7 linked regions of the Homo sapiens genome follow. The protein of the gene in region 5 interacts with the protein of the main gene of each other region in a pairwise test. Each region holds a gene or a part of one and is shown on either strand. Other genes may lie near its edges.

Evidence for each region.
Region 1: the proteins of MSX2 (region 5) and PATZ1 interact in binary tests that used the Homo sapiens proteins (3 or more experiments, as listed by UniProt).
Region 2: the proteins of MSX2 (region 5) and LENG8 interact in binary tests that used the Homo sapiens proteins (3 or more experiments, as listed by UniProt).
Region 3: the proteins of MSX2 (region 5) and ZFHX3 interact in binary tests that used the Homo sapiens proteins (3 or more experiments, as listed by UniProt).
Region 4: the proteins of MSX2 (region 5) and POU6F2 interact in binary tests that used the Homo sapiens proteins (3 or more experiments, as listed by UniProt).
Region 6: the proteins of MSX2 (region 5) and TCF7L2 interact in binary tests that used the Homo sapiens proteins (3 or more experiments, as listed by UniProt).
Region 7: the proteins of MSX2 (region 5) and TENT5D interact in binary tests that used the Homo sapiens proteins (3 or more experiments, as listed by UniProt).

What each region holds. Positions count from the first base shown.
Region 1 is NC_000022.11:31,328,893-31,333,450, forward strand, and holds part of PATZ1 (POZ-, AT hook-, and zinc finger-containing protein 1 isoform long C), read right to left. Parts: intron 33-4,558; coding exon 1-32. UniProt on the Homo sapiens protein: Transcriptional regulator that plays a role in many biological processes such as embryogenesis, senescence, T-cell development or neurogenesis. Interacts with the TP53 protein to control genes that are important in proliferation and in the DNA-damage response.
Region 2 is NC_000019.10:54,451,701-54,456,258, reverse strand, and holds part of LENG8 (leukocyte receptor cluster member 8), read right to left. Parts: intron 4,167-4,558; coding exon 3,992-4,166; intron 3,609-3,991; coding exon 3,507-3,608; intron 2,714-3,506; coding exon 2,603-2,713; intron 1,830-2,602; coding exon 1,577-1,829; intron 1,309-1,576; coding exon 1,167-1,308; intron 896-1,166; coding exon 692-895; intron 293-691; coding exon 14-292; intron 1-13.
Region 3 is NC_000016.10:72,795,980-72,800,537, reverse strand, and holds part of ZFHX3 (zinc finger homeobox protein 3), read left to right. Parts: intron 1-408; coding exon 409-511; intron 512-1,823; coding exon 1,824-4,558.
Region 4 is NC_000007.14:39,204,394-39,208,951, reverse strand, and holds part of POU6F2 (POU domain, class 6, transcription factor 2), read right to left. Parts: intron 1,561-4,558; coding exon 1,332-1,560; intron 1-1,331. UniProt on the Homo sapiens protein: Probable transcription factor likely to be involved in early steps in the differentiation of amacrine and ganglion cells. Recognizes and binds to the DNA sequence 5'-ATGCAAAT-3'. Isoform 1 does not bind DNA.
Region 5 is NC_000005.10:174,727,582-174,731,396, reverse strand, and holds the end of MSX2 (homeobox protein MSX-2), read right to left. Parts: intron 2,239-3,815; coding exon 1,814-2,238; 3' UTR 501-1,813; downstream 1-500. UniProt on the Homo sapiens protein: Acts as a transcriptional regulator in bone development. Represses the ALPL promoter activity and antagonizes the stimulatory effect of DLX5 on ALPL expression during osteoblast differentiation. Probable morphogenetic role.
Region 6 is NC_000010.11:113,165,203-113,168,726, reverse strand, and holds the end of TCF7L2 (transcription factor 7-like 2), read right to left. Parts: intron 3,173-3,524; coding exon 2,755-3,172; 3' UTR 1,049-2,754; downstream 1-1,048. UniProt on the Homo sapiens protein: Participates in the Wnt signaling pathway and modulates MYC expression by binding to its promoter in a sequence-specific manner. Acts as a repressor in the absence of CTNNB1, and as activator in its presence.
Region 7 is NC_000023.11:80,418,622-80,423,616, reverse strand, and holds the start of TENT5D (terminal nucleotidyltransferase 5D), read right to left. Parts: upstream 3,171-4,995; 5' UTR 3,054-3,170; intron 1-3,053. UniProt on the Homo sapiens protein: Catalyzes the transfer of one adenosine molecule from an ATP to an mRNA poly(A) tail bearing a 3'-OH terminal group.

The sequences.
Region 1 (4,558 bases), on a different chromosome or scaffold from region 5:
ATGGACCTTTAAGTAGGAGGCAGAGGAGAAACCTAAACAAGACAAAAGGAGATGAGATCCCGCGGCCAGCAAGAGATACCTCTCTCCTTCCCCCAACTCCTCTCCTCTGGCCGCTCTGGCTAGCATTCCCAGGTCAGCTGCACCTAGAAGGGGCCCCCTCCTGGCTCAAAAATGGCTGCAACCACATGAGCCATGTGACTCAGGATGGAGGGTGGCACTGTCCACAAATCGGCTTCTCTGCAGAGCCCACTCTGCAAGGCTGCGGTGAGGGGCTGAGGCTGGCTGCCTGGTGGGATGGCCTGAGATCCTGCTCCTGCTAGGGCCAGAGGCCAACTGCCTCTAGGGTTGCTTGGTGCCTCAGTAACAGGTGGTTTGAGTGGATGTCTCCTGCAGGAACCATGACTAGAAATGTGGTTAGACAAGAATTTGAGGCTCCAGGGAAGCCACAGGATTCTAGCCAGCAGGATGCCTGCTTAATCCTCGTAAAAGGAAACTGGACAACAAACGAGATGGAGGTAAAATGAAATCCCAAAGGAACGCCTCCAAGGATCCCGTCTTCTACCTGTCAGGAGATGTTCTATTTTTCTAACTTCCCCACCTTCAGCATAACAGGATTTAGTAACTGTTTAGACCTTTTGAAGAACAAAGACAAAAATAGGAAGTTGTGTCAGAGGAGTGCAGTCATCTCTTATTCATGGTAGTGTTTTGGTTCGATTTTGGAGCATCCACCAGGTTCGCGTACAGGAGAAGAAACACGGATGATCTCTGTCTTTATTTTGGGGGAGGACAATCCGGCCTTCTTGGGACTGTTCCAGCCCACCTCCCAGATGCTTCGGTCAGTCTGATCCACGAGATATCTCAGGCTGGGAAGAACACATCTTGGGCCAACTTCCACAGCAGCCATGCGTCCAAGGATACAGAATCAGGCAGGCCGATAAAAGGATTTTGACTTGGGTTTCACAGGAAGGAGGTATGCCATCAAACCCCACTGTAGTCAAGGATCAGAAGGTGCTTTTAGCAGGAACTGAAGCTTTTTAGTATAAGGCCCACTTAGGGTGCCAGCACCCTGACAGTGTCCCTTTAATCCACTTCAGATCTGGTTGACTCATCATCAGGTGTTTCCATTCACTTTCAAAATTACACAGTCACAGGATAACAGTGAGATCCACTGCTAAAGGGTAAAGGGTCAGAGGCTGAAGAGTACTGTGTAATGTCTGCATGAGATTTGTTTTAAAAAAGTCTGAATTGGCATGGTATTTTGAATGCTGCTGGAACTGTAATAAAGGTTCACCTTTAGGAAGTGCTGATGGCACACCAGGGCCCAGCACACCGCATGCACTATTCTATAGAATTTGCCCAACACCCTTTGTGCTACAGATTACTATTATACCCATTTTACAGATAAAGAAATAAGAGGCTTTGTGAGGTTAGGGAGGCTGAGGTGGGCAGATCACGAGGTCAGGAGATCGAGACCATCCTGGCTAACACAGTGAAACCCCGTCTCTACTAAAAATATAAAAAATTAGCTGGGCGTGGTAGCAGGCACCTGTAAGCTGAGATCATGCCACTGCGCTCCAGCCTGGGCAACAGAGCGAGACTCCGTCTCAAAAAAAAAAGAGGCTTGGTGAGGTTAAGTAACCTGGTCACACGTACAGCTACTGAGTGGCAGAGCCTGGACTCCAACCCCAGGATCATGTGCCACCAGAACTTGGCCCTTAGCTACTGGGCAGATGCTTTAACCCACTTATGCCTCATGTTCCATTATTGGGACGCTAACCTTTTAGGAATTATTTGTATCCTACTGCTCAAGATCATCATTAAAGTCTGATTTTTCACAAAAAAGTTTGTAACCTCCAGCATAAATGGGTTAATTGGTTCCTGTGTCTTAGCCCTGAGCCCTAGAAATATCCAGTGGACTTTTACAATAGGTTTCATTATTACCATTTACACTCATGTATTTTTCGACCATAATGGTATGTTAGAATGGAAGCTGCTGGAAAAACAGGGCTGGCCTGTGGGAACTTTATTTAACAAGTTCTCCTCTGACAGCAGCAGTTAGTGGTTCTGAAGGGAAATGTGGGATTGGGCCAATTTTCCTTCCTTTCCCAATACAGCTACTTCAAAGATCTGTCTAGACCAGGTGCTGGTGTCCTGCCCTGCCTGGTAGAGCAAGTTGTCCTGTGCTATGACCGCAGTGGTCTGCCTGAGGCTGATCATGGGTATAGATTGGTGTAAGAGGGTCCCATGTAGACATCCCTAAGAGGGAGGCTGTAGTCAGGAGTGAGGAGACAAGGCTAATGGGAAAGAGGCTGTTAGCCCTGCCCCTTGGGGTGGTACTGTAGAGTCCCCTAAAACAAAGCAGAACCAGGAGACATTGGCTCCCACCAATCAGTACAAGATATTAGAACTTTCTGATAATATGATGATACCACTTTAGAAGGTAATTTTTTCCTTTTTTTTTTTTTTTGAGACAGAGTCTCACTCTCGCTCAGGCTGGAGTGCAGTGGCACCATCTCGGCTCACTGCAAGCTCCGCCTCCAGGGTTCATGCCATTCTCCTGCCTCAGCCTCCCTGGTAGCTGGGACTACAGGCGCCCGCCACCATACCTGGCTAATTTTTTTTGTATTTTTAGTAGAGACGGGGTTTCACCATGTTAGCCAGGATGGTCTCGGATCTCCTGACTTCGCGATCCACCCGCCTCGGCCTCCCAAAGTGCTGGGATTACAGGCGTGAGCCACCGTGCCCGGCCTTTCCTTAGTTTTTTAATCCCTTGTGGGGTCTCTAAAATAGCATGAAGCTCTCTCCCTGTGATGAACCAGAGCAGGTCCACTGCAATCAAAAGGGGACAGAAAGGAGCGGGAGAGCACCAGGAATTATTATGTTTACTCCTTACTGGGAGAGCTATACCAAGAGAACACAGCAGATGCTCAATAAAAACTTGCTGAGTTTGGCTGGGCGCAGTGGCTCATGCACTTTGGGAGGCCGAGGCAGGCAGATCACCTGAGGTTGGGAGTTCCGGACCAGCCTGACCAACATGGAGAAACCCTGTCTCTACTAAAAATACAAAATTAGCCGGGCGTGGTGGTGCATGCCTGTAATCCCAGCTAACTAGGGAGGCTGAGGAAGGAGAATCGCTTGAACCAAGGAGGTGGAGGTTGTGATGAGCTGAGATCGCGCCATTGCACTCCAGTCTGGGCAACAACAGCGAAACTGTCTTGCTGAGTTTTCCTGAAAAACAGTCTTAGAAACACGTGGCTGAGTCCTCTTGACTTTACCCCAGCTGCAGACTGTACTATCTATAGCAAAACCACATGGCGGGGTGGTAGGAGTGGATCCACAGCTGCCACTTAAAGCCTAGAATTTAAACACAGAGCAACTCAGCAGCCAAGTGTTAGGATGAAACAGAAGCTGAGCTTCTGAGCAGAATACGTCTTTGAAGCCAGACATATTTAGCCGGAATTCTAAACTTACCCACCCATTCACCACTGATTAACCAAGATCCAAAGAGGCAGCTTGATCCAGCCATCCACGCAATGGAGATGCTGAGCACACATATGACTGCCACTACAACCAACAAGCCACCGGCCCTTTCACTCCAGAGACGATGGTCTTATTAGCAAAAGGCCACTGCTCCTCAGTTGCATTTTCTTGCCTGGTGTGCCTGCACTTGGCACTCCAGAAGCAAATCATCCTTTGGCAGGTTCCACATCAATGCAGGGGTTGGGGACTGCTTTCTCCTTGTCCAAACCCTGAAGGGGCCATTCCCAACTGCACTGTGTTGGAGTGGGCCTACATAGCTTGATGTGAGTCCAGGGGAACAGCAGGTTCCCTGCATCCATCCACTTGTGTGCTTACCTCTGACTGGGGAGAAGGCTTCCTCTACCTTTCAAGCAATGATGTTTGCATTCAAATGTCTCTGTCAAAGGCGGATTCCTGATAATCTGTTCCTCTTCACCATACCAGCACATAGGCATATATACAAAGATCCTGCTACAGAAACTTTAAAGGAAGAAAATCATGGTGATCAGCCAGGGCCTTCTCCCTTTTCCACTGTTCAACTCAACTGATTTCCTCAACTCAAAAATGTGGGAACAAGCTTTTCTAGCCATAATACTCCCTCCACTGCAAATGATCTTCCTGTACAAATAGTATCATACACATCCTGATATGTCTGTATGACAAAGCCAGAGTCATCTGTCTCTTCAACTTGCATCTGACTCACGTGTGAGGCTGCAGGAGTCAGGCTGCCTTTCCTCTTTGCCATTCTTCACAGCCAGGAGTCATTTTTGTGGCAAAAATTGAAAAAGACAGATCTATAGGTAGATACTTAAGTCAACTATTTAAGAATTGTTGGGATTGAAGGATCTGAGGGCACCTGGAAGTTCACCTGATTCAATCTTAACTGTTCTGACATTCAGCCTTTGTTTGAACACATGCAGAGATAAGAACATTCGTTTATTCGTGCAACCCCTCCTGTAGGTACAGGCTTGGTGGCAGCAGGGCAAAGGAGGACACAGAGCTCTCTGCATTTTGATTCCAATGTCTCAATGTTTTTGGT
Region 2 (4,558 bases), on a different chromosome or scaffold from region 5:
GGAGCCTCAGTACCTTCTGCGGAAGTGGCGCGTCGGGGACCTGGAGGAGGAGCGGGAGCGGGAGTCTGTGCTGGAAGAAGAGCTGTTGTCCTTCATGAAGACGTTGCGGTTGCCAAACTTGGTGAAGCTGTTGCCCCGGGCTCGACCGGCACCCCCAGCCCCGGGCGTCCCTCGCTGGGACGGGGCACCCCCGCCCCTTGTCGCCGAGCCTGCCCCTCTAGGAGGGTGAAGGCTGCTAGCGGCCTCCCACCGCTTCTTCTTAGGGCTCTCAGCCACAGGCTCCCGGGTCAGCCTGAGAATACAGCAGGGCAGGGCGTCACCAACCCCGCCAGACACTGGCAGGACAGCCGCCACCACCTCCCTCAAGGTACCGACCCGCCTCCGAAAGGAAAGGCACTTACCCCAGGCGGCTCAGCTACTACAGTGCAGAAATGAGACGCGAACCCAGGTTTTCCGTCTCCAGAGGGTGCGCTTAACCACTGAGCAATGCACGCCTCTCCAGCACCCATGGTCCCCACCCCACCCCACCGGCCTCCCTCCAACCAGGACTTCATCCCCCCAGGATCCAACTTTCCAGTTCATTTCTCTTTGGAGCTCCTGGTACCTGGGACCCGCAACTCTCCTACCTCCATACCCAGCCCATGCCTCTCACAGCACCACCCTCCCACCTATGTCCCCCACCCAGACTAACCCCGGCAAGGGCTCCCGGCTCCAGTCAATGGTATAGGCCGAGCCGTCCTGCAGCCGCGCCTGCAGCACCTCCTTGAGCAGCTTTTCCGTGCGGTCCTTGTCCTCCTCCGACTCACAGGCGGTGAAGCAGCGCTCCACATACTCTTTCATGTCCTGGGGCCAGTCATCCGGCTTCCCAGACAGGTTCCCCCGGGCAGAGGACCCGCTGCGGGAGGACAGATGAGGGGCTCAGCTGGAGACGATCCCAAACTCAAAAGACCATCCCCACCGCCACTCTGAGCTGACACAGCGGGACGCAGTCCCCAAGTTTTCCTTCTGTCTCCTTCAGTGCTCACAGCAACCCCCAAGAGAGGGTCCTTCTGCCCTTTTCAGAGGCGCACACTGAGGCTCAGGGTGGGCAGCTGGCCAGTGGGACTGGACCATAGACGCTGAGTGCAGAGTGTGGGGCTGCGACGGGGCAAGGGGGCAGACGTCACCTGTGGTTCTGAACTTTCTCAGGGTTGGGCTGGGGGCCAAAACCACTGTGCTGGCCCTCTGCGTTGGAGCCAAAGCTCTGGGTGGTAACAGCAAAGGGTCGCTTCTGGATGTTGAACTTGAGACCTCCAGTCCCAGGGGCGGCTGTGAGGGCAGCGAAAGCTATGGTTAGGCCCTTCCCCGGCACATCCAGGGGTCCCCAGGGGACGGGAGGAAGTGGAAATGCAGGGAGGAGCGCTCAGGTTCTAGAGGAGGGCTCCAGCACACATGTGCCTGGTCCAGAGCAGCCCCACCCCCAGCCTGGCGATCACAACACCCAGAAACAAGGAGCAGCACACACCACGGGCCTCACACCCAGGAGCTCTTATGAGGGCCCAACCGCTCGGACCTCCACGTAGCTCTGCCAACTTACGTTTCATGCGGTTCCACAGCTGTTGGCCCTTCTTGGGCTTGGCAGGTTCGGTGTAGGTGTGTGGCCCATAGGCCTGGCCCGTGGCGGGCCCCGCCTGGCTGTGCTGTGTGGCTGGAGCTGTCCCAGGCTGAGGGCCACTGTTCAGCGTGTGAGCCCCATGTGGGGGATTTGAGGGCTGAGGGGGCTGAGCCGACGGCAGCTGCTGAGGGGGAGCCTGGTAGGACATGCTCTCATCCATGCCGGGGACTGGGGGCTGCAGAAGGAAGCAGGCGCTGAGCACGGGAGGCAGATTCTGGGGCTGGCGAGTGGCACTCAGCCCTCGCTGTGAGGACGCAGTGGTCACAGCACTCAGCACTCAACCCTCCCGTGACCTTCCCAAATGTGAGTTCATTCGAGTCCTCAGTAACTCTGTGAGGTTAACATTTGTTAACAGCCCTTTTCACAGCTGACAAGGCTCCAGCTCAGAGACTAAGCGACTTCCCAGGGCCCTAAGCTATGAAGCGGCAGCTGGCAGCGTTTCAATGCTGGAGTAACAGCCACCGACAACACACCCACTCCAGCGCTACCATCTGAGCACAAGACACCCATGAGCACACACACTCATGGAGCCCAAGGATGAGGCTACCATCCTTCCCGCTTTCGAGAGCTGACCGAGATGCGTAATTACACCAGGGGTGGGACAGCTGGGATTCAAACCCAGGTCTACCTGCCTCCTGTGCACTAGCCCGGCCATTCCTCCAAGCTGCACATTCAATGCAAAACCCAGCCGGTGTGTGCACGCCTGTGGGTGACCATGCTAGGGAAAAAGATGAGATGTCTTTCAACATCTCAGCCCTGGCCTTGGCTCAGCCTTAAACCCACCCCAGGTTCAAACACTATGCTCTGTCCTCCTCATTTTCAGATCAGGAGTTGCTTGGAAGGAAAAAAGCAGCTTAAGGAGTACAAGCCATTCCTCATTGACAGCTCATTCAAAAATCTACACTTCCTCTGCTTGAGCAGGGTATGGGAGCTGGGCTAGGATGTTACCTGGTTCAGAGTCCCTTGGTGTTGGGGTGCGGATGGCTGCTGGGGTGTGGCTGAGCCATAGGAGCCGGCCATCCCATACTGGGAAGGGGAGCCATAGCTCTGGTACATGCTCTGCAAAGGCGCAGGGAGGGAGGGTTTAGTGGGAGGCCTACCCTTTCCGCTTCCCCAGCCTGCTCAGGAACTACACCAGCCATGACCCTCTACCAATCCCTCACCCCTTTCTCTCTTCACTATATTAATGCACCACATCCTCTCATATATTAGGAAAAGAAAAACCTCTATCAATCCCACATCTCACTTAGCTAGTTCTCGGAAGAATATAATCAACGATACTGAGTGCCAACTCTTCTAAGCACTACGACAGAACAAAAGGAAAACCCATGCTGTAATGAAGCTTGTGCTGGAATTACATGTCCGGCTGGAGACATCAACATGTAATACATCCAGCAATAAGGATCATGAAACAATAAGATGGCAAAGAAAGGGAGAGGGACAGGCTGCGAGGCAGGAATGCTACTTTCAATCAGTGTGTCAGGTAGAGGCTCTCTGAAGGCGGCATCTGAGCAGAGACCTCCAAGAGGCGGCAACACAGGGAGCACTGCAGCCAGGGCAAAGCGAGAGCGGGCCTGGCGGGTGCGGGCATCAAGGAGGTCTCTGCTTCGATGGCCATGGCAGAATGAGCATGAGGAGAGAAGGGACCAGAACCGGGTATGTAGGACCTTGTGGCTCATGGCGGGGACCTAGGAATTTACCTCCTGGGCAAGTTAGAGGGTTTCTGAGCAGTTATCACTGCGATCTCCAGTCCATCCACCACCCAGCCCCATCCCGGCAGACTCCACTTCACCTCGCCCCGACCCAGCAGACTCCACCTCGCCCTGCCCCGCCCCACTGGCTGGGCACTCACCATGGGATAGTAGTAGCTGTAGGGGTAGGCATAGTTGTACTGCTGGTACCACTGGTAGTACTGCTGCTGCTGCAAAGCTGAGGCTTCTGCCTGGGACACGTACTGTGGAAGCAGAGGCACATGTGCCGTCAGCAGCCCAAATCCACAGGCACACGGCCCCCAAAGGGCAAGCCTGTTTACTGGTGGCCAATTGCCAAGGGATGAAACTGGGTCCATGTATCTGCAAAGTGAGCCACTGTCTCTACCATGAGACTCACGCACGTTAGAGACCAGGGGCATGGGCATGGCCTCCCTCTTCAGAACCACATCACGCCCTAATTTCCTCAAGGAAACAGAACTTTTTCCCGTTCAGATTTAGATACCCTGGAACGTCTTTTCATGTTTCCCCTCAGAGCACCCCGTCTGAATGATACAACAGGACGCCAGACTGTGTCCCTCCCACAACCTCTGGCTCAGGGTACCCCAGCCCCATGAGGCCTTCTCACCTGTGCACTGGCCACAGGCCCATTGCTGCTGGACTTGGCAGAGCCGCCGGCAGCTCCTGACTTGCTGATGCTGGCCAGGGCCTGACGGGCCTTCTCCCACTCCGGGTTCTCGTGCATCGGCGTCTCCATGCCATTCTCTCGGCCTGCCCCAGCCACCATGCTGTACTGAGAAGACCTGCAGAGAGAGAGGACATCAAGTCACACCTGTTCTCCCCACTGTACACAGGTGGGCAAGTTGGGAGGCAAATTCCAGCCCCTGGATCCCATATCTAACTGTTACTACCAGTCTAAGCCTAAGTTTTCTAATCTGTACTATGCTGATAAAGGGTTTCTGCTTCAGAGTCTGCTGGGAGGGATAAATGAGATCACCTACTTAAGGTACTTATCCCAGAGCCTGGCACACAGCAGTTGTTAAAACCAAACAAACAAAACAATTAACAGAACCCACAGAACTGAACACAGGCCTTGGCACCTCCTAGGGCTATGTCTTTCATGAATCAATGAATTCTGTCTGACATCACCCCAGTCGGCAGGTTATCACACTATTTTGAGAAAAAATAAGGAATC
Region 3 (4,558 bases), on a different chromosome or scaffold from region 5:
CAGTGTACTTTACTAGGTATGATTTAATTAGGGCCCTTATTATGTTTTCAGCAGCTTAAGGTGGGCCTTTCAACTTATCTACCTAATTGGTTGCACAAGAAGTTTCACAGCCCATGACAAAACATTGTCAGTGATCAAAGTCAAAATTCTGCATAAAGGAAAAATATTAATAAGAAGATTATTCTTCAAGTGTGCACTGCTAATTATGTCCAGAATGTAACCGTAGAAACACTTTTGACTGATGTGAGCTTTGTCTAATAAACATGAATCTTCAGTGAGCTATGAAAAGTGAGACACCTCTAGCTTTACACTGGTGAAGGCTAATTTTGCTTATTAAATAATTTTTAAACATTTCCTATTTTGTGTCGCTTTCCTCTCCATTTGACTCTCCTTGCTCTTGCTCCTCAGGTGACCACCCCTGAGATGGTGATGCCAAGCAGCATGTTCCTCCCAGCAGCTGTTCCAGATCGAGATGGGAATTCCAATTTGGAAGAGGCAGGAAAGCAGCCTGGTCAGTATCATTATTCTTGACCCCAAGAAATTGAAACAAGATGGAATGCCAAAATGTTCATGGAGAAAGGTTTTCAGGAATTCTTTACAATACTCTTAAGGTGAATGTAACTGATCAGGAGATGAGGGGCACTGTCATCAGCTACTTTATACTCTGCTTCTTGGCATGTATTTGTATATTACTCACATGGTTTAAAGTGAGAGAAAATTAGTATGAGAACCAGTGGAATTCTGGCACAGACACACACATCTTCTTAAACTATACAATTAGGGAGTGAATAACCAGAGACTCAGTCAGTAGGCCCTACCATTCTAAGCCATTAAACACTGTATTTCTGAGGACTTAATTAGTAGGGACTTGTGGGTTGATTTTTAGGTACACTGGATTAGTTGTCTTTCGTTCTGAGTTTTTTGGGATTGGCTTAGGATGAAGCACAGAGATGCTGATGGAAAGAACATTGTTGTAGACAGTAGTTGGTGCCACATAGTGTTTCCTGGCTAGATGAATGGTTAGACCTCTGTGAGGCTGTCCTACATCGTTCACCTCTAAGGTGGGAAGAGTTCTAAGTTGGGAAGAGTTTGGCCACACTACTGTCCTGCCTTCTCTCTTTCTTGTGAGTTTTCCATATTAGACAATGGACAAATGACCTGTTAAAGGGTCTCGGTATTTATGAGTGTGATGATCTCATTGTAGGGAAAAAAATGTATTTTAAATAATTGAACACTTGAATGTTAATTGCTTATTGAATAGAGATGGCAATCAGAAGTCACATTATAACAAGAAATTAAATGCCTAAAAATATGTATCCCCAAATTTCTTATATTACGATGTTCAGCAGTTCTTGTAAATTCCTCACAACTTAGGACAGCATTAATTCACATATTCTACACTTCAGATCTACTGTGCTAAATGCTTATTACATAAAAGATGAACATAAAAGGGAAATCCAGTCTAAGATCAGTAACCTTCAAACCAGCTCTTGAGAAATTGAGGATTCTGAGTCAAGCAATTAAATGCTATTTAAAAGACTGTTAGATCTGTGATATGACATGGGTCTATTATGCATTGAAACTTTTTGTATTTCCTTTTATCCATCTCTGTTCATGTGCACCCTGTTTATAATATGTGCTCTATTGGAGGAACAAAAGAAAGCAGGAGGCGCTCCGCAGAGATTCTGTCATTCAGGTTGGGCACTTCCCTCATCATCAGATTCTGTGTTCATGAGGCCTGACTAGGTAGACCGCTCTGGGTGCCATCCTTGAAACAAAGCCTTCTTTATCTTTGGGTTTGATTTTTTTTTTTTTTTTAACAGAAACCTCAGAGGATCTGGGAAAGAACATCTTGCCATCCGCAAGCACAGAGCAAAGCGGAGATTTGAAACCATCCCCTGCTGACCCAGGCTCTGTGAGAGAAGACTCAGGCTTCATCTGCTGGAAGAAGGGGTGCAACCAGGTTTTCAAAACTTCTGCTGCCCTTCAGACGCATTTTAATGAAGTGCATGCCAAGAGGCCTCAGCTGCCGGTGTCAGATCGCCATGTGTACAAGTACCGCTGTAATCAGTGTAGCCTGGCCTTCAAGACCATTGAAAAGTTGCAGCTCCATTCTCAGTACCATGTGATCAGAGCTGCCACCATGTGCTGTCTTTGTCAGCGCAGTTTCCGAACTTTCCAGGCTCTGAAGAAGCACCTTGAGACAAGCCACCTGGAGCTGAGTGAGGCTGACATCCAACAGCTTTATGGTGGCCTGCTGGCCAATGGGGACCTCCTGGCAATGGGAGACCCCACTCTGGCAGAGGACCATACCATAATTGTTGAGGAAGACAAGGAGGAAGAGAGTGACTTGGAAGATAAACAGAGCCCAACGGGCAGTGACTCTGGGTCAGTACAAGAAGACTCGGGCTCAGAGCCAAAGAGAGCTCTGCCTTTCAGAAAAGGTCCCAATTTTACTATGGAAAAGTTCCTAGACCCTTCTCGCCCTTACAAGTGTACCGTCTGCAAGGAATCTTTCACTCAAAAGAATATCCTGCTAGTACACTACAATTCTGTCTCCCACCTGCATAAGTTAAAGAGAGCCCTTCAAGAATCAGCAACCGGTCAGCCAGAACCCACCAGCAGCCCAGACAACAAACCTTTTAAGTGTAACACTTGTAATGTGGCCTACAGCCAGAGTTCCACTCTGGAGATCCATATGAGGTCTGTGTTACATCAAACCAAGGCCCGGGCAGCCAAGCTGGAGGCTGCAAGTGGCAGCAGCAATGGGACTGGGAACAGCAGCAGTATTTCCTTGAGCTCCTCCACGCCAAGTCCTGTGAGCACCAGTGGCAGTAACACCTTTACCACCTCCAATCCAAGCAGTGCTGGCATTGCTCCAAGCTCTAACTTACTAAGCCAAGTGCCCACTGAGAGTGTAGGGATGCCACCCCTGGGGAATCCTATTGGTGCCAACATTGCTTCCCCTTCAGAGCCCAAAGAGGCCAATCGGAAGAAACTGGCAGATATGATTGCATCCAGGCAGCAGCAACAACAGCAGCAGCAACAGCAACAACAACAACAACAACAACAACAACAAGCACAAACGCTGGCCCAGGCCCAGGCTCAAGTTCAAGCTCACCTGCAGCAGGAGCTGCAGCAACAGGCTGCCCTGATCCAGTCTCAGCTGTTTAACCCCACCCTCCTTCCTCACTTCCCCATGACAACTGAGACCCTGCTGCAACTACAGCAGCAGCAGCACCTCCTCTTCCCTTTCTACATCCCCAGTGCTGAGTTCCAGCTTAACCCCGAGGTGAGCTTGCCAGTGACCAGTGGGGCACTGACACTGACTGGGACAGGCCCAGGCCTGCTGGAAGATCTGAAGGCTCAGGTTCAGGTCCCACAGCAGAGCCATCAGCAGATCTTGCCGCAGCAGCAGCAGAACCAACTCTCTATAGCCCAGAGTCACTCTGCCCTCCTTCAGCCAAGCCAGCACCCCGAAAAGAAGAACAAATTGGTCATCAAAGAAAAGGAAAAAGAAAGCCAGAGAGAGAGGGACAGCGCCGAGGGGGGAGAGGGCAACACCGGTCCGAAGGAAACACTGCCAGATGCCTTGAAGGCCAAAGAGAAGAAAGAGTTGGCACCAGGGGGTGGTTCTGAGCCTTCCATGCTCCCTCCACGCATTGCTTCAGATGCCAGAGGGAACGCCACCAAGGCCCTGCTGGAGAACTTTGGCTTTGAGTTGGTCATCCAGTATAATGAGAACAAGCAGAAGGTGCAGAAAAAGAATGGGAAGACTGACCAGGGAGAGAACCTGGAAAAGCTCGAGTGTGACTCCTGCGGCAAGTTGTTTTCCAACATCTTGATTTTAAAGAGTCATCAAGAGCACGTTCATCAGAATTACTTTCCTTTCAAACAGCTCGAGAGGTTTGCCAAACAGTACAGAGACCACTACGATAAACTGTACCCACTGAGGCCCCAGACCCCAGAGCCACCACCACCTCCCCCTCCACCCCCTCCACCCCCACTTCCGGCAGCGCCGCCTCAGCCGGCGTCCACACCAGCCATCCCCGCATCAGCCCCACCCATCACCTCACCTACAATTGCACCGGCCCAGCCATCAGTGCCGCTCACCCAGCTCTCCATGCCGATGGAGCTGCCCATCTTCTCGCCGCTGATGATGCAGACGATGCCGCTGCAGACCTTGCCGGCTCAGCTACCCCCGCAGCTGGGACCTGTGGAGCCTCTGCCTGCGGACCTGGCCCAACTCTACCAGCATCAGCTCAATCCAACCCTGCTCCAGCAGCAGAACAAGAGGCCTCGCACCAGGATCACAGATGATCAGCTCCGAGTCTTGCGGCAATATTTTGACATTAACAACTCCCCCAGTGAAGAGCAAATAAAAGAGATGGCAGACAAGTCCGGGTTGCCCCAGAAAGTGATCAAGCACTGGTTCAGGAACACTCTCTTCAAAGAGAGGCAGCGTAACAAGGACTCCCCTTACAACTTCAGTAATCCTCCTATCACCAGCCTGGAGGAGCTCAAGATTGACTCCCGGCCCCCTTCGCCGGAACCTCCA
Region 4 (4,558 bases), on a different chromosome or scaffold from region 5:
ACAAATGTTCCAAACGGAAGGCTGCATTTTGATAATGCCCATTTCTTCATTAAGATTTCATCATCCACCTACATTAAAACGCCTCTCCCTACACTTTGTTGCTTCGGCTTTCACCTTGTGTATTCCTGCTTTATTTGCTTAATCTTGAGATCTGGCTTCCCAGGCACTCTCAAATTTGAAACAAGCAAAGTTTGTGCATTAGCGTATCCTGGGCATGCATGATTTATGAATGGCAGGTTTCTTGGCACAATTTAATGGTACAAGAGAGACTTCGTTTTAAACATCAAAATGGAAGTCAAGAAGTGGCAACAATGGGTGGGGTAACAGAACATAGAGAACGGAAAGAAGTTTGGGTCAAGAGTGAACAGTTCTTACTTGGTCTGTTTCTTAGTCTTGTGGACTGATTCTCCGATAAATTATATGAAGCCCTAACATTTGACCAGCTAAAAAAGTATTTTAAATTGCTATTCTGATAACTTACCCAGACAGGCCCTCATTCTGCAAAAATTTTAATTGTTAATTTTATATATATATGAAGAAAACAAACATCTTTGACTAGTCCAAAATAAATTCATTTTCTCTTTAGCAGGCATCCTATTTATATTCAGGTCATTTTCCACCAAAATAATTACTCCTCTGACAGAATCTTTTGTAAATCAATCTATCAGTCAATGCTACCAAATCTTTTAAAGAAAAGTCAAAACCTTCATAATATCAAGACAACTACCCTTCCTAAGTAAAATTAGAGTCTGACTTGTTATATGTCCCTGTAGTATAAAGGCTCAACATACAAGTCTATTTTTCTCATTGCAAAATATGAGCTCAAATAACACAATTTTTGTTTAATAACTATAACTAAAACATACTTTGTAGAGCAAAATAATCATTAATAAATTATTCCAAATAATATCTTGTATTTGAGATGTTCCAATCACTTCAAACACAAAAAAGCAACCTCTAACTTTTCTTTACCCATGGCTAAATTGAAGAATTGGTGAGATGATAACTCAGGTCTTCAAATAACAACACAGGAATTTTACTTTTAAGTTTCTGATATGTCATGCAATGATGACTCATAAATGCTTCCAGGAGTCCTGAAAAGTTTTGATACCAATGTTAGGAAATGAGGATTGATAAAACCAATGGCTTGTGCAGGCTCAGGATTCACAGACAACTGAAAATTTTGCTTCCTGTGGAAGCCTTCCATATCATTTAGGGCAGAAGCAACTCTGAACCACATTCACCATTCTAGGCACATTTTTTTTTGCCCACTTCAGAGAATACTGGCCAACGGGTAGAGCCTTACGTGGCGCATGGACATTATGGATTACCTTGTAGATTTTGCAGTGGCAGAGTCATAATGCCTCCGGCTGCAGCTGCTGCCACCAGCCCTTGGATGTTGGTGAGATTCGCTGTTGGCAGTGTGAGAACCAGTCCTTGCTGGCCTCCTAGCTGTCCCGCCATGTTGAAGGGAATGAGGATTGGCTGGTTGAGGGCTGGGGGGCCTCCCGGCATCACGCCGGCCACAGCAGAAGCTAACTGCTGTGCCGTCAGAAGTGGCTGCAAGGAAACAGATACAGCTAGCTCACTTTCCTGTGGAACCAAGGCATGGGTTTTAAAAACATCTTCTTTCCACTTAAGTAGGGTCAGAAAGTTCCCGAAGAAGTACCAAAAAACATGCCCTATCTCATTAAAAAAAAATGATTGGTAGAAAAAAATTTTCAAAGTTGCATTTCATTGATTTCTTTGGAAAATTTCATTTGGTTTGGACTTCTTGTGAGGAACTCAAATATCTTTACAAGTAATAACTTACGTTTATATGCTACTCTTCCATTGAGTTTCCATTTGATCCTATCTTCATATATTTGAAGCTCTCAGCTAATTTATTCTCTGTTGTTCCAGAAAGAACTCATTGGGATCAGTGGGATTTTTTGATTCAAAAAGAGCAACGAAATACTACTTTTGACTTTTAAATTAACAAAAATAATGTAGAAAATTTACTCAATGCTGGAAAGTCTGTATTGACACCATTATGCAGATCTATGGCTGGGGGACATGTACACTAGCATAATCCTTTTGGAAAGCAATTTAGAAATAGATTATCAAGAGCTGCAAAAATATTTATCCCCCTTTAACTCAGAATATACTCCTAGGATATAGCTTGAAGATATTATTCAAAAGGAAATAAGATAACTGCATAAAAACATGTATTGTTTCAAAATACATAAATATTGAAAATAGCTTATTACAGTACTAAACTAGATGAAATATTGCATAGTCATTAAAATGGATCATTATGACACCTCTTTAGAAAAATAGAAAATGTTTATAATATGAGAATAAAATAGAAAGTAAGCTGGATAACTATTAAGTAAACTTGAATGATTATTGTTAAAATGGTAGAATTATGTATGTACAATGACAAGATCTAAAACAGAATGTAAGACATAAAAATATTTGATGTGGATAAAACTTAAAATCTTTGAAAATAATTCTTTTGTTATTACTCTAACATCATTTGCCCAATTAAAATGATATTATACAAACACATGTTTACATCCACTATGGATGGAACAGCCCTTCTCTGGTAGGGAAAGGCAACTGCTCGGCATGTTTTGAGTGCAGCACGTGGGCTCTTCACCAGGATGACATGGGAAGGATTCCTGCCCTGGTCAAGCCAGATGACCACAAGAGTCATTTGATCTTAGAGTCCTTGATTCAGGACTTTCATTGCAGCCTTGTGGGAGCCATGTGGAACATAATAATCCTGTATCTGTTGTTCTTCTACAAGAACCAATGCAAAACTCTTATGTGAGGGGTAGGAAATTAAATACAGGCATACTACTAAGCTCAATGTATAATAGCCAGGCACTATTCTAATGCTGTAGTTAATCTACCAATGAGATACAGAGAGGTTAGTAACTTGCCCAAGTCCCATGTCTAGTTGAGAGGGGGTTCAAGTTCAAGCCCAGGAAGGCTGCTCCACAGCCCATGTTTTACCCCTTTCTTGTATCCCCTCCAATACAAAGAACAGATTTAGAGAAGTGGGGCTGCTTTATCTGAAGAATGAGGGGAGGTGTGGAGAGGGCTAAGCCCATACTTGGCCATTCCCTGCAGTGTTCCTTTCAGGACCCTTTGGGGGAGACTCTGCAGAGCCCTAGGATTCTGCACAGCTGAGTTTAGAACTGCTGCTTTAGACCCCACAGGCCTTGCTCCTAATGTATTTGTGCACTTTGCTAAATTCACACCAAGTAACTGTGCTTCCCTTTTTAAAAAAATACAGTTATTCTAATGAGCAAAATAAATATACTTCGGGAATGTATACAAAATTATATGCTGGCCCTCAGATTCCAGGTGTTACATCACTGCCAATAGTGATATTATGGTAAGAGGGAAGGCAAATAAGTAGCTCTCAGACCATATATGGGTCATAGATTTGGGGGTTTTGGCCTGCAGCATTTTAAAAATAGGATTTGTGGGCTCAAGGCAGGGCATGCACTCTCCAGTTTGTCGGAGGGCCACCACTCCTCACTGACCTGGGCCTGTGGGGCTGCCTACCCAACCTGAAGGCATTAGAGTGTGTTACCCCCAGTATGTTCACAGGCAGGTGTGCAGACATACACACACACAGACACACATAATTACATGAACACACACACAATGTTACAAGCATAAAATTATAAAGCGTATGACACCAAAAATCCTGTTCCTGAGAGTCCCAGGAAAACTCTCTAGGCTTCCATAAGCCAGCAGACATTTCCCCAGGCTTTCTGTCCACAGGCACAGAGTGATCTGTCCTCCGAGATGGACTACGGGATCTGAGGCCATAGGGAGTCTTGGTGGCGAGTGGAATAAGAATGTCAAGGCCAACCCTCACTCTAAACTTGGGTGAGCCCTCAATGTGCTTAAAGTCATTAACTTCCAGGAGCAATAATGACAATAAAAGGGAGAGAAAGGCCCAAGTCTCAGCTTCTCTTTCCAAAAAAGCAGGATGAACTCTGAAAGCTTCACACTAAATGATAGAGGTAAAAAGGAAAAAAAAAAAAAAAAGCCCAGCCTTTTATAATTGTGTTCTACATCTCCATATAGCCCACACCAGGCTGCAAAAAACAAATATTGGACTTTAAAAAATAATGATTGTATTTCTTTATTAATGCAAGAGCTATGTGTGATGTACAGTATTGTCAAACCCAATAAGCTGAACTTGCATTAAAATTGCATTAACTTTTTTATATTAAATCACATCTTCTATTTCAAAAATGGCTATAGTAAGGTTGAAATAACTTAATTTTCTTCACACTCCAGTCATTAAAGTTTTACTTTCCAGGAAACTGCACGGTAACCAACAGCACAATTGTAGTGGGTTTTAAGATAAAAAAAAAAAAGTGTTTCCACATGATTAAAGCCAACCTTTCCTTTAAGAAGAGAGAAGAGTTTTGCAAACACATATTTTCTTGGTGGTATTTAATAAATAATGTAGTCATACAGCTTTTCATACGAAAATTTATTACCATCTTTGCTCTGTTGGAGTCAATTGGATTTAACTCATTATTATTTA
Region 5 (3,815 bases):
GTAAACGGAATGCGATTTCACACACTCCTGAAAGGGGAGCCGGCTTCCATCCCCCAGCCCAGCGAATGCGCCTCGTTACCATGTCCACTTGCAAACAGCTATAAGGACCCTTTTCCTCAGTTTTAAGTTTGATGTGTTGGTAGCTGGGAGATTTCAAGTTCAAGATTTTCCCTTGATCATGTACAAATGATTTAGATGCTGGCCGATCTCCGCCTCACCACTTATTTAAAGCTTATCTTTCACTGTACTTTTTCTGAAAAACTCCTCGCAGCAATTCCACCTCTTTTCCATAAGTAACAAGCTGCCAGAGGAAACATTTCAAAGTATTTCAGTAGTTTCAGTTCACTCCCCACCACCACCAATCACCCCAACATGGCTGAATCTGGCCACAACTCTTGGTTGACTTACATTAAAATATTAAAAAAGACCAGCTTCCCCCTCATGTGGGTAGCACTTTCGAGCTAAGCCCAGCTAAGAACAGAGAACACCTCTTAAAATAATTGTGAGTTTGGACAAACTTTACTGCAATAAAACAAATGCTTAATTTAATTCAGAATAAGAGATAACTCTTCAATAAAATATATCAAATTGTACAAGCACCCTTTCAAAGGGATAAAGGTATACCGGAGGGAGGGGACAGATGGACAGGAAGGTGAAATACCAGGGAACTTAATGGGCTGTTTGACAATCCCATTTTCACCAAGTCAAAACATGGCTTTACCTTCTGCCCCCCAACATGTAAAAAAGTATATAAAATTTTCTAATAAGTTTAGGACATACAACAGGTACACACACAGAGAAAGCATATTTTTTTTTCTTTCTGGATCTACTAATTGTTCAAGAATATTTAGCATATAGGTAATGGTTACAAGATACTCATTTTTTAAGCAGAAAATTACTAAACCCCCACCCAAATCACCTTTGCAATCTGTGAGGATGAATGTACCTAGTATTTCTCAGAAACCATCAATTCCTCTCAACAGGTTTTAACATTTTACTCTCCAATTATCTGAAATAAAGTTACCAACAGCCTTGAGAAGAATTAGGAAGTATTTCTAATTTTCTACCTCACCTCCAGGCAGTCTCAGGATTCTTCTCATCCCAGGTATTGGTCTTACAAAAATATTCTTAAAAAAGGAAAAACTTTAAAAATATGTGTGTGGTGGGGCGGTGGGGGGCGGGGGAGAGATAGGAACAACTGTAGTATATAAAGAGGTTTCTTTTAATGCAAGTAAAATGCAGAAATATGATGTGTCCCCTTCACTTTGAATAATCTCTCCATATCTAATATTTTCTGTGTGCATTGTGTCTGTTTCTTTGTTTTCCATAAGCAGAAGTCAATAATCCCGTAAAAATCATTGACTTTAGCACATTTTGCAAATAATTTGTCTCCCTCTTTAAGAAAATACAACAAATGGACTTACACAGTGTCTTTTGGGAAGGTGAGATATAGAAAAAAAGCACATATGTATATAAATTTTGCCTTTTAAAATAATTTGAATTTTTACGTCTGCTGTATAAAAATGTATTATATTTTATTATATATATATATTTATACATAAAAACCATCAGAGCCAATCTTTGTGAAAGGAAAAGGGGGCATCTGGAAGATTACACCAAGAAAACAGGGCTTGGTGCCTCCGCCTACAGAACAAATTTCAGCTATGTCGTGTGGCCCTGTCAGCCTAGCCGCTTAGGGTGGTGCACGCAGGGTTAGCAGAGCAGGAGTACTGGCTGGTACTGCCTTCGTGGAGAGGGAGAGGAAACCCTTTGAAACAAGCATCCATCATGGAGTCTATTGATCTGGTCTTCCTTAGGACAGGTGGTACATGCCATATCCCACTGGCGTGGCATAGAGTCCCACAGGCGGGATGGGAAGCACAGGTCTATGGAACGGGTAGGATGCTCCATATATGGACGCTGCCTGCAGGGGCGAGCTGATGGGGAAAGGGAGACTGAAGCTGGAGGGCAGCATAGGTTTTGCAGCCATTTTCAGCTTTTCCAGTTCTGCCTCCTGCAGTCTTTTCGCCTTGGCCCTTCGGTTCTGGAACCAGATTTTGACCTGGGTCTCTGTGAGGTTCAGAGAGCTGGAGAACTCTGCACGCTCTGCAATGGAGAGGTACTGTTTCTGACGGAACTTGCGCTCCAGGGCGAGGAGCTGGGATGTGGTAAAGGGCGTGCGCGGCTTCCGATTGGTCTTGTGTTTCCTCAGGGTGCAGGTGGTAGGGCTCATATGTCCTAGAGAACAGAGAGAGGAGCGGATTAGCAAAAGAAAGTTACATTAAAATAATACTAAAAAAAACCCATCTCCCCCGTCATCTCTCTAGGTTTTTTCCTTTCGGGCCTCCCCTCTCAACTGAAAGCACTTAGCTTTAAAAAAATCTATATATACATACATATACACACACACACACACACACACACACACATATCTATGTATGGAAAGACATACTTTGTTTCATCTTTGAAAAAGGTACCTTTGTCAAAACTATGTGTGTTTCTTGGGGGGAGGGGGACCATATATAAATGGGTAAGTTGCTTCGTTTTTTAAAAATGAGTTTTTTAAGAAAAGTTTTGGAAATGTAATGGTGTAACTGAACCTTCTATATGGAAAACAAACAGCATTAGAGATAACAGAAATAGAACATTTAATGTAAGACAAGGGAATCAAGTGGTCGGTGAGAAATGAACCGCTATCTCTTCTGAGCATAATTTATCTTCTCTTTAAAAATGGGAGACCAGGTTCATGATTAGCCCAGCCTCCCTTGGACATGGAGACAATCACATATGGGAAGGAAAATGAAAAAGGTTTTAGCAACCGGGTTAGCTGTTTCCCTTGGTCTCCTCTCTGAACCAGAAAAAGTGGATTGCGTCAGCATATTTATGAAGGATAATCGTGCAGATAAGGTCTGTGGTAAATTAATAGCATCTTTGAATTTGGGGGCAGTCCCACGCAATAAACAGTCACAAGCTGTCATTGCATCCAGTCCACAGATTATAAAATCTGAACATCATTTTACAGATCTGGATGTGGGATAAGGTTCTTGGCTGGGCGCTTCTGTAATATAAACTTTACTAAGACGAAGGGAAAAATTAGCTAGCCCATAAATGTAAATGTCAGGGGAAATCATGCTGCCTCCAAATTGAGAGCACGTGATGACATCTTAGTCATCCCCTCTACCCATTCTATGGCTTCGGGCAAATGTGTAAATGATTTGTTTGTCAGGGGGAAAAACAAGCAAAATAAAGGTATGCCAACAGCATCCAGACTCCACATTTAAAATGGATTCAATTACAGCAAATCACGGACTGGGACATCCTTGTGATTCCATAGCATCAACTAACTTTGGGCTTGTCTTCCTCAAGGGTGGGTGGGCGGAGGAGGATAGAGCTGTGGTGATAGAATACTTAACAATTAATTTTCTGCATTTGGCTTTTACGAGCTATGCTAATTTTCCAAATGTGGCCACAGTATTAACTCTAATGTATTCATGGGAGAATGTTGCATTTCTTGTTTAGTTACTTTGGTGGCCCAAGAAAGAGTTTACACTTCATACTTGAGGGTGACACAGCACAAGTCCCAACCCAGCTTCCATTTCCAACAAGAGATGGATTTGTTCCAGTGTCGCATTATTACCCATCACTTTACTGAATCAAAAAGAGATAAGAGGCTTTGTAACCAACCAAAGAACAGAAATCTGGGAAAGGGAAGGATAAGAAACTACCATAAAAGTCTATACTTTTGCATTTGCTAATCCCTAAGTTACTAGACAGCCGGGGAGCCAGCTTCTTAATTTACAAATTAACAACACTGT
Region 6 (3,524 bases), on a different chromosome or scaffold from region 5:
GCCCAGTGTGCAAAATAAAATGAGGAAGGACAACCAGAAACACTCCTCCCTGGGAATACAAAGCAAAGCAAAAACAAAATGCCGAGATTTTACAGAAGAAAAACTTGCTTGAGCAAAGCAGTTTCCGAGGGGCTCTTAAGTCCTTGATGCGATACTGTGGTCACCTTAAGAAACCACAACGGCAACACGAACAGTTCCATGCCCATTGAAATCGTCATCCTTTGAAGGTATAAATGTCCTAGATAAATGGAACAATGTGTCCATCCATCCATCTAGTCAGCAAGAGAAATGAAATCCAGGGGAAACCTTAGGGAAGATCTGTATCATGGCCCCTGCTCAGTGATGGTGATGAACTTGGGCTCTTACCAGGGTACAGCCAGAACACTTGGATCCCACATACAGCAAGGCCCTTCCACACACACCTTTCAGTGCATCACCTTAATCCAATTTTCTAAAAAGCTGCTTACTCAATAATCGCTCACTGCTAGAGAAAGGGCAGTTTGATACCCTTGCATCTCTCCCAGGATGCAACTCTTGGAGGTTAGGATGCTTTCACACCCATGATCCTTAACTGCTAAGGATGTGGTTTCTTAAGTGCACTCTTGGTGGACTAAGTCTCATTCACCAGAATTAAATTCTTTCTGCTTGCTACTGTGAGAGGATGAGTAGGATATTTCAGAGAAACTGGTTTATAGCCCCCAAAAAAGTGACATTTGCTCTGTAACTGTGCTTTGCTTTCAGCAACAAACTACTGGGAATGGCACGGTGAAATACTACAGAAGACACACACCAGGGATCCCCTTTGATACTGATCATCTCCATTGCAAATGACACATTATGCAAACCAGATACACCAAATGGGCCACGAGGATGGAGGGGAGGGGATCAACCCCTCAAAAGAGTCCAAGACCACGTTCTGGTATCTAAGTCATCACCTACACACTAACTGTATGGTCAAGTTCCAACGTGGGAATATGTTTTTCTTGATTACGGTAGGTCCAGTTTCCCTAGAGATAAAAATCCAAATCACAGAAACAAGTGACCAGCCTTTATCTGCACATACTAAGTTGCTTTTATTAATCCAGAACGGCATGCTACAGATACTGTACAGCATGAACATTTATTCATTACAAAAATGGCTTCCAAACCATTAAAAATGAACTTGGAATAAGAGCATAAAACGGAACAGTAACATCACAACTGTTAGGAAACATTCAAAGTATTCACAAAAAATGTTATAGTTAGCATTTTAATAAACCAGAGAAAAATCGGAGACAGTTTTACAATCGCTTCATGTCAACTACAATGGCACTGAATGAACAGGTTTCAGCTTTATACAGCATTTTGCAACATCAACATGCCTAGGTTTTTTTTATTTTTAAAGTCTGCTGCCTACTCGTATGTAATATGTGTACATAAAAGCGGCAGCTGGTTTTTCGTTTAAGAGTAATCTAATATACAGAATTTTGGCCCTTAAGGGTTTATACCTCTTCATTTAAAATGCTTTCTGGACAATCTGCTACCAAACACATTTTGTTATAGGTGACATTAAAACTACATACAAATCTACCTATGTAACATCACAGCAAAACATGATGAACAAAAATTACAGCATCAAAAAGAGGGAGAAAGCTAAATTCACTGAGAATTTTGGCACGTAAAGTTTTGTACACGGTCAGTCCGGGTCCTAAGGGCGCAGGGTAGGGCATCCCACTGGGAGTTCAAAGGGGAAACGAAGATGGTTCCCACTGCTGCTCAGACAGTGTCGCTAAAATTCCCTCACTCATTTTCAAGTCTTGTTTTACATAATGGCTTTTAAAGCAACTTTTGTTAATGCTACTGATCCTTAATGCAACTATTAATGTCCATTTGGTGACATCTGGGTTTCATACAGAAAAAAAAAAGTCAAAAAGGGGAAACAAAAATATATATACACATTTTATATATAAACTTAAAAACCTTGTACAAATGAGTTGTTATATATAAGATGCTTATGCTAAGGGGGAAAAAAACTTTATACAGTTTCAAGAAAAAGGAAAACATATTTAAAAAGGGACGACATACAGGTACGACAAGCAATCTCTAAAGCAATAAATACTACTGGCCCAACAGCGTTGTGATTCTATTAAGTGTTGAGTAGCGTCCCCTCCCCCCAAAAGAACAACACCATGGAACAAGGTATATTAACACATTTTTACCCTTTGTTTCTGTACATTTAAACAATAACAAGTAACATCACAATAAGAGTTGTTTCACACAGAAAAAAAAAAAAAAAGTAACGGCACTGCATTCATGGTGCCCTTACGGTTTAAAAACCAGATGTAAAATGATTGGTTCGCAAGCTCGTATTTAATACAAATAATACAGAACCAACTCCTTCTGGAGGGCTGCTTCAAAATTGCTTTTTTTTTCTTTTTGTTTTTTAATCAGTCTTTTAAAACTAAGCTATCCGAACTACATAACAGTTATGTATATATATATATTTTTTAAACGCTACAAAGACTTTAAACAGCTGTTGATAAAAATTTTGGTAGAATCATGAGGTTCTTCTCTCATCTACATATTTAAAAGGAGAAATTGAAATAAGAATGGGTCAAATATTGACCAATGAACTCGATAAACATCAACTAATGTAGCCACATGGCACAAAATTAAGAGAGTACAAAACAAAACCTTTCAAGGTGGGGGTGGGGGGCAAATTAAGAAAAGTGAAACAAAACCATAAACAAAGCAGCGGGGTTCACGACGCTAAAGCTATTCTAAAGACTTGGTGACGAGCGACAGCGGCTGGGGCTGGGTCCCGGCCAGGGAGCTGTGGGAATGTAAGGAAGAAGTCGACGGCTGTGCAATTGATGAGGAGGGGGCGGCAGGCTGCAAAGCGGCTGGGGGCAGGTCCAGGGCCCCGTTGGGACAGAGGGCGGAGGCCTTGTGGGTGGCCTCAGCGAGCAGGAGGGCGGGTGGCGGAGGCATCATGGACAGGTGGGCCAGGGGGTCGGGCTTCAGGGACAGCGACAGAGGCTGGGTCTGCTCAGTCTGTGACTTGGCGTCTCGGGGAGGGGAGCCTAGCAGGTTCGGGGAGGGGGGAGGCGAATCTAGTAAGCTTCCATCTGAAGAGGGTGGGCTGAGGCAGCTGCCTTCACCTTGTATGTAGCGAACGCACTTTTTTTTTCTCCTAGAAACAGGGGAGAGAGTTATCTGTGAATAGAGGGCACAGATGCCAAGGGAGAGAGTTACCTAATGCTCACACCCAAGCTGAGGTCACCTAAGGGATGTCCCACAGAGGTGGCACGCCCAGTGGTCCGAGGACAATTACAGTGGCGCCCCCCCAGGGTGGGTCGCTTACTTCACAGTGCCCAGATCTAAGCCTGCTCTGGCAAACAACTTATTTAAGAGTCTGAACTCTCTACTTGCTTCCCCCAACCCCTACTAAACACCCATGCCCCACCATGCCCAAATTATATACGAGAGCAGCATGGAGGCGGCCACCTGCAGATGGTGGCATCTATTTGCCAAAAAGTGGCTTT
Region 7 (4,995 bases), on a different chromosome or scaffold from region 5:
GCTTTCACTTCAGCTTCTACTAGGTCCTGGGCCAAGCTAGGTAGCCCCAATAAATCATCACTTCAGCTCCTGATTGGTCCCAGACCAAGCTAAATCACACTTTCCTCAAAACAGCCTGCAAACTATGCACATTCCTTCCCATCCCGGTCCATAAAAACCCTGAACCCCGGCCTCATGGTGGGGAACCCCTTTGGGCCCCACTGTCTGCTGCAGAAAGCGTTCTTCTTTTGCTTATTAAACTTTCACTTGAAATTCACCCTTGTGTCCACGCTCCTTAATTCTCTTAAATATAAAAAAAAAACTCTGGATACTATCTCAAACAACAAAATACTGCTACATATTTTGCTTCATTGGGAAAACTACAACAGTAGTACTACTTCCCCTTCCTACTCTTCCTCTGCCCCTTCCAGTGGCTGTAGCTGGTAAAGATTTATAGCTATGTGAATTCAACAGTCACCAAGTGAGCTTCTCTTGCTTCTGATGTAAATGATGCAGAGTTGCTGCCTCTCCAAACTGCCACCAATTTCAGAGAAGCAAGCTGGCCAGAGAAATCTCCAGCCCCTTTTGAAGGGAATCGCTGAGAATACTCTGAAGTACAACAGGCTTTCAAGCAAGCTGGGAGGTAAAGCCACCTAGTGAGACCAAAATGCCATTCTCTCTGCACTGGATGCTGTACAACTCGCCATGACCCTCACAGTAAACCCAGTAACCTCATAAGCTTTATCCACATCATTCCAAATCACTAACCCCTCTGTGGATAACCCTGTCAACACTCAAGGAATTAAGTATTCTCTGAAGGGGACTCCAGAATTATAGCCAACACCATATACATCTTTCACATCCCTCTTAAACACTATCTGAGGAAGGAGAAAAGTAGAAACTCATCCCAATGTTTCTAGAAAAAGCCTTTTACTAACAAAAAAAACCCAAAAAACTTCTGTTCATAGCTCTCCCCGTCTACTCACCGCACCCTCTCAGACATTAAAACTTACCTCACCAACTGCTGCTCTCCTCAAACCCATCCCATCAAGGAGAAAAACTACAGGGGTGTGGTGTTAGCGTGAGGCTCAGGAGGGAGCCTGCTAGTAGGCAAGCAAGAGAAGGGGCCATTAAAGAAAGATAAAATGAAATGCAATTTTTTTTTTGAGACATAGTCTAGCTCTGTTGCCAGGCTGGAGTGTAGTGGCGCGATCTCAGCTCACTGCAATGTCTGCCTACCAGGTTCAAGCGATTCTCCTGCCTCAGCCTCCCGAGTAGCTGGGATTACAGGCATGCGCTGCCATGCCCAGCTAATTTTTGTATTTTTAGTAGAGACGGGGTTTCACCATGTTGGTCAGGATGGTCTTGAACTCCTGACCTCGTGATCCACCCACCTCAGCCCCCCAAAGTGCTGGGATTACAGGCATGAGCCACTGCACCCAGCCATGAAAGGCATTTTTTTAAAGGGAGAGAAATAAAGAAAGAAGGAATCATATGGATTCTACCTACCCTAGGTGGGGTGATCTCTTATTACTTTCCATTCTCCTTCATTGCTGAACTTTCTCCCATGGGATACTACTACCTTTCTCCTTTCCTATACCAAAAACTATTTTCCCTTTTTTTCTTATAAATAATGACTTGCCCCATGAATTCCCAACCTCCCACTCAGTAACCTCCACTTTTTTTCCCACCCCCCGACACACAAATAACTCCTCCTTCTCCTCACATTTCTTCAAGCATTTCCAACACAAATACAAATTTAAGTTCACGCTCAGAAGGCAGTTTTGCTGAAAGACGTGGCATTTTTTTCTAGTCACTTTTTTCCTTAAGTCTCCTTATCATGGGGAAGTCCCCTCCCTCATTTCAACACCTTCTACTCTTAGTTTGGCTACAGATATTCAGGTCCTCATATTTTCTCTCACATCTGCAGTTAATTTTCATAGGAGAAAAAGGGTGAATGATAATGGCATTCTTTAAAGAAACAATTTCAAAATGCAGTCTTTGCTATTTTAAAATACAATTGGCTTAATAAAATCCATTCAGTTTATGATTAATTTGATTATTTTTCTAAACTTTACTTGCATTAAATTGTTCTACTAGAGGAAAATAAGGTAACTTCACTCTTAAGGTACTTAAAAGCTATACAAGTGAGGCCAGGCACGGTGGCTCACGCCTGTAATCCCAACACTTTGGGAGGCCGAGGCGGGTAGATCACGAGGTGAGGAGATCAAGACCATCCTGGCCAACATGGTGAAACCCCGTCTTTACTAAAATACAAAAAAAAATTAGCTGGGTGTGGTGGTGCATGCCTGTAGTCCCAGCTACTCTGGAGGCTGAGGCAGGAGAATCGCTTGAACCTGGGAGGCAGAGATTGCAGTGAGCCGAGATCATGCCACTGCACTCTAGCCTAGTGACAGAGTGAGACCCCATCTAAAAAACAAACAAACAAACAAAAACTATACAAATGAGATAAGACATGAGTGCTTTAAAGGAAAAAAAATAATCTGAAAAGGAAGTTCAGGACTATATAAAAAAAATACAGATATGTAAACATGCTTGATTACCTGACAATAACTTTCTTTCACTGGTATGTAGTAATTAAAAACATTTGATATCAAAAAAGGAATTAGGTATAGTCTTTTAATACTTCACTTCAGAAACAAATTAAAGTTTGAAAATAATCCATCATCAGGCTATTTATTGAGATGTCAATGTGTCAGTCAATTAATGTAGGACGTAGGGAGTTTTGTAACTCTCTTACTCTAGAGTTCTGAAAAAACATAATTCTTAATACTATATCAACGTATCAGTTATGTCTTTTATCTCTTACTCTTGAGCTAGTTCAGAAAATAAAATATTAAAACAATTATTGATGCCCTTTTAAACATATTAACTGAGTTCAGTTTTACCACAGCCATGATTTTGGGCACAGTTATTAATGAAAGAGATAATTTTCAAAGATATTTTAGTTGAATCAAATAAGTTTCTGGACAAAATATAAATTAAACGTCAATTTTGATGTGTGCTCAGAGTTAAAACTAAAAGAAAAACTCCCTTTCTACAAGATTGCTCACCGTGTCTTCTGATAGTAGACTTTGCTGAATTTAACAGTCTTACTCTGAAGACTAACATCCTTTACCAGAGTTCTGCATCACCTGATCTCCACACATTCTCTACACCTCACTTGCTGCAATTCCAGGGTTACTGTTGCCAGGAGACAAGGAATATTATTATTGCATCATTAATGCTCTTATAGATGGGGGAATTTTCAAAAAATAAATTTAAATAGGGCAATTCTGAGTCCCAAATCTCAAAAAAGACAATGTTATACTAGATATATTAAAGATTAAAAACAGGTTCCTCAAGATACTTGAACTTAAGTTAAAAAATAGTGAAGAGGGAGGAAGGAGAAAAAAATAGTGAAAATAACCAGTTAAACCATGCAGATTCACACAGATAGGCAAACATTTTTGTTTTGTAAGTATTGTAACTGCCTACATGTAACTTCAAAATTAAGTTGTAATTTCTGAAATACAGAATTTGGGAAAATATTCTCTATTTAATTTTTACCCCCAAGTGAACATGTTTTTGTTTTAAAAAAAATTCTTAAACAATTAAAAAGAGGCTGGTCATGGTGGCTCATGCCTGTAATCCCAGCAATTTGGAAGGCTGAGGCTGGAGGATTACTTGAGCCCAGGAGTTCAAGACTAGCCTGGGCAAGATAGAGAGACTTCGACTCTATAAAAAATATAAAAAGAAATTAGCTCGGTGTGGGGATGCATATCTGTCATTCCAGCTACTCAGGAGGCTGAGGTAGGAGAATTGCTTGAGCCCAGAAGGTCAAGGCTGAAGTAAGCCATGATCACACCACTGCACTCCAGCCTGAGAAACAGAGCAAGCCTTTGTCTCAAAAAGAAACAGTTAAAAAAGTATTATGGTTGATAAGTATAATTGTTTTGAGTGCCAACAACTAATTTTTAAAAAGAACATTTAAAAGACAGAGTTCTTCTCAAAATAATGTTTTGTTACAGTATGTCCAATTTATAGAAACTATCACATAACTGTTTGAATAAGAATATCAAGATTACAAAGATAGGCAAATAGGTAGATATAGGAAGAAAATTGTCTGGCTAAGCCAGTGATCCATGTGATATTTTTAAGATAGATAATTTATAGCATTTTCCAGTAAAACATAGAAAAGACTAAATACATTTTGGAGGGGCCAAAGGTAAAACAAGATACCTACTCAATGTTTTCCTGGCAGTATAATATATGACAAAGAAATAAATAATTTTTAGTAACATTTAAGACTATAATCCTAATCCTTGTATATAAAGAATGTTACACTGGAGTTTAATTTTAAAGAAAAATATACGTGTACAGTTTCTTAAAGATATGAAAATTACATTACATGATATATATAATACTGAATATAAGTTTTTAATTTTAAACTTTTGAGTGTAGAATTTTTAAACATAATTAAATGGCAATGATAACTAAAAATTATATGATGCTTATAATGTGTCAGGTATTAAGTGCTTTAATTAACTCAATCCTCATTCAAAAGAATGTGAAGAATAGAGGTAGGGTCTATGATCCCATTGAAAAAAATAAAAAACAAATTATGCAAAGAAATTCATGAAAAGAGTAACAGATAAAATGGACATGATGAACAAAGAGTTAGCTAGCTAGGTAGGGGGTGGAGGAGGGGTTTTAAGTAGAATAAGAAATCAGATATTTTGTAGGGTGCCATTTAATATACAAGCAAGGGTTATTGGAAAGAAATCTGAAAATGTCATAAGGCAGTTTCATTAATCAGCAATAATGAATTCTGTAAAGTACTACATGTTTAAAATAAAATACATATATCAGATATAGGTCAAATTCTAAAATAAAATACATATATCAGATATAGGTCAAATTCTCAACTATCTTTTTATAAAGATTTAAAAATATGTCTTTTACCAATATAAAAAGTCAAAACAGTATAATAACAAAGATAGTACAAGTATCAGT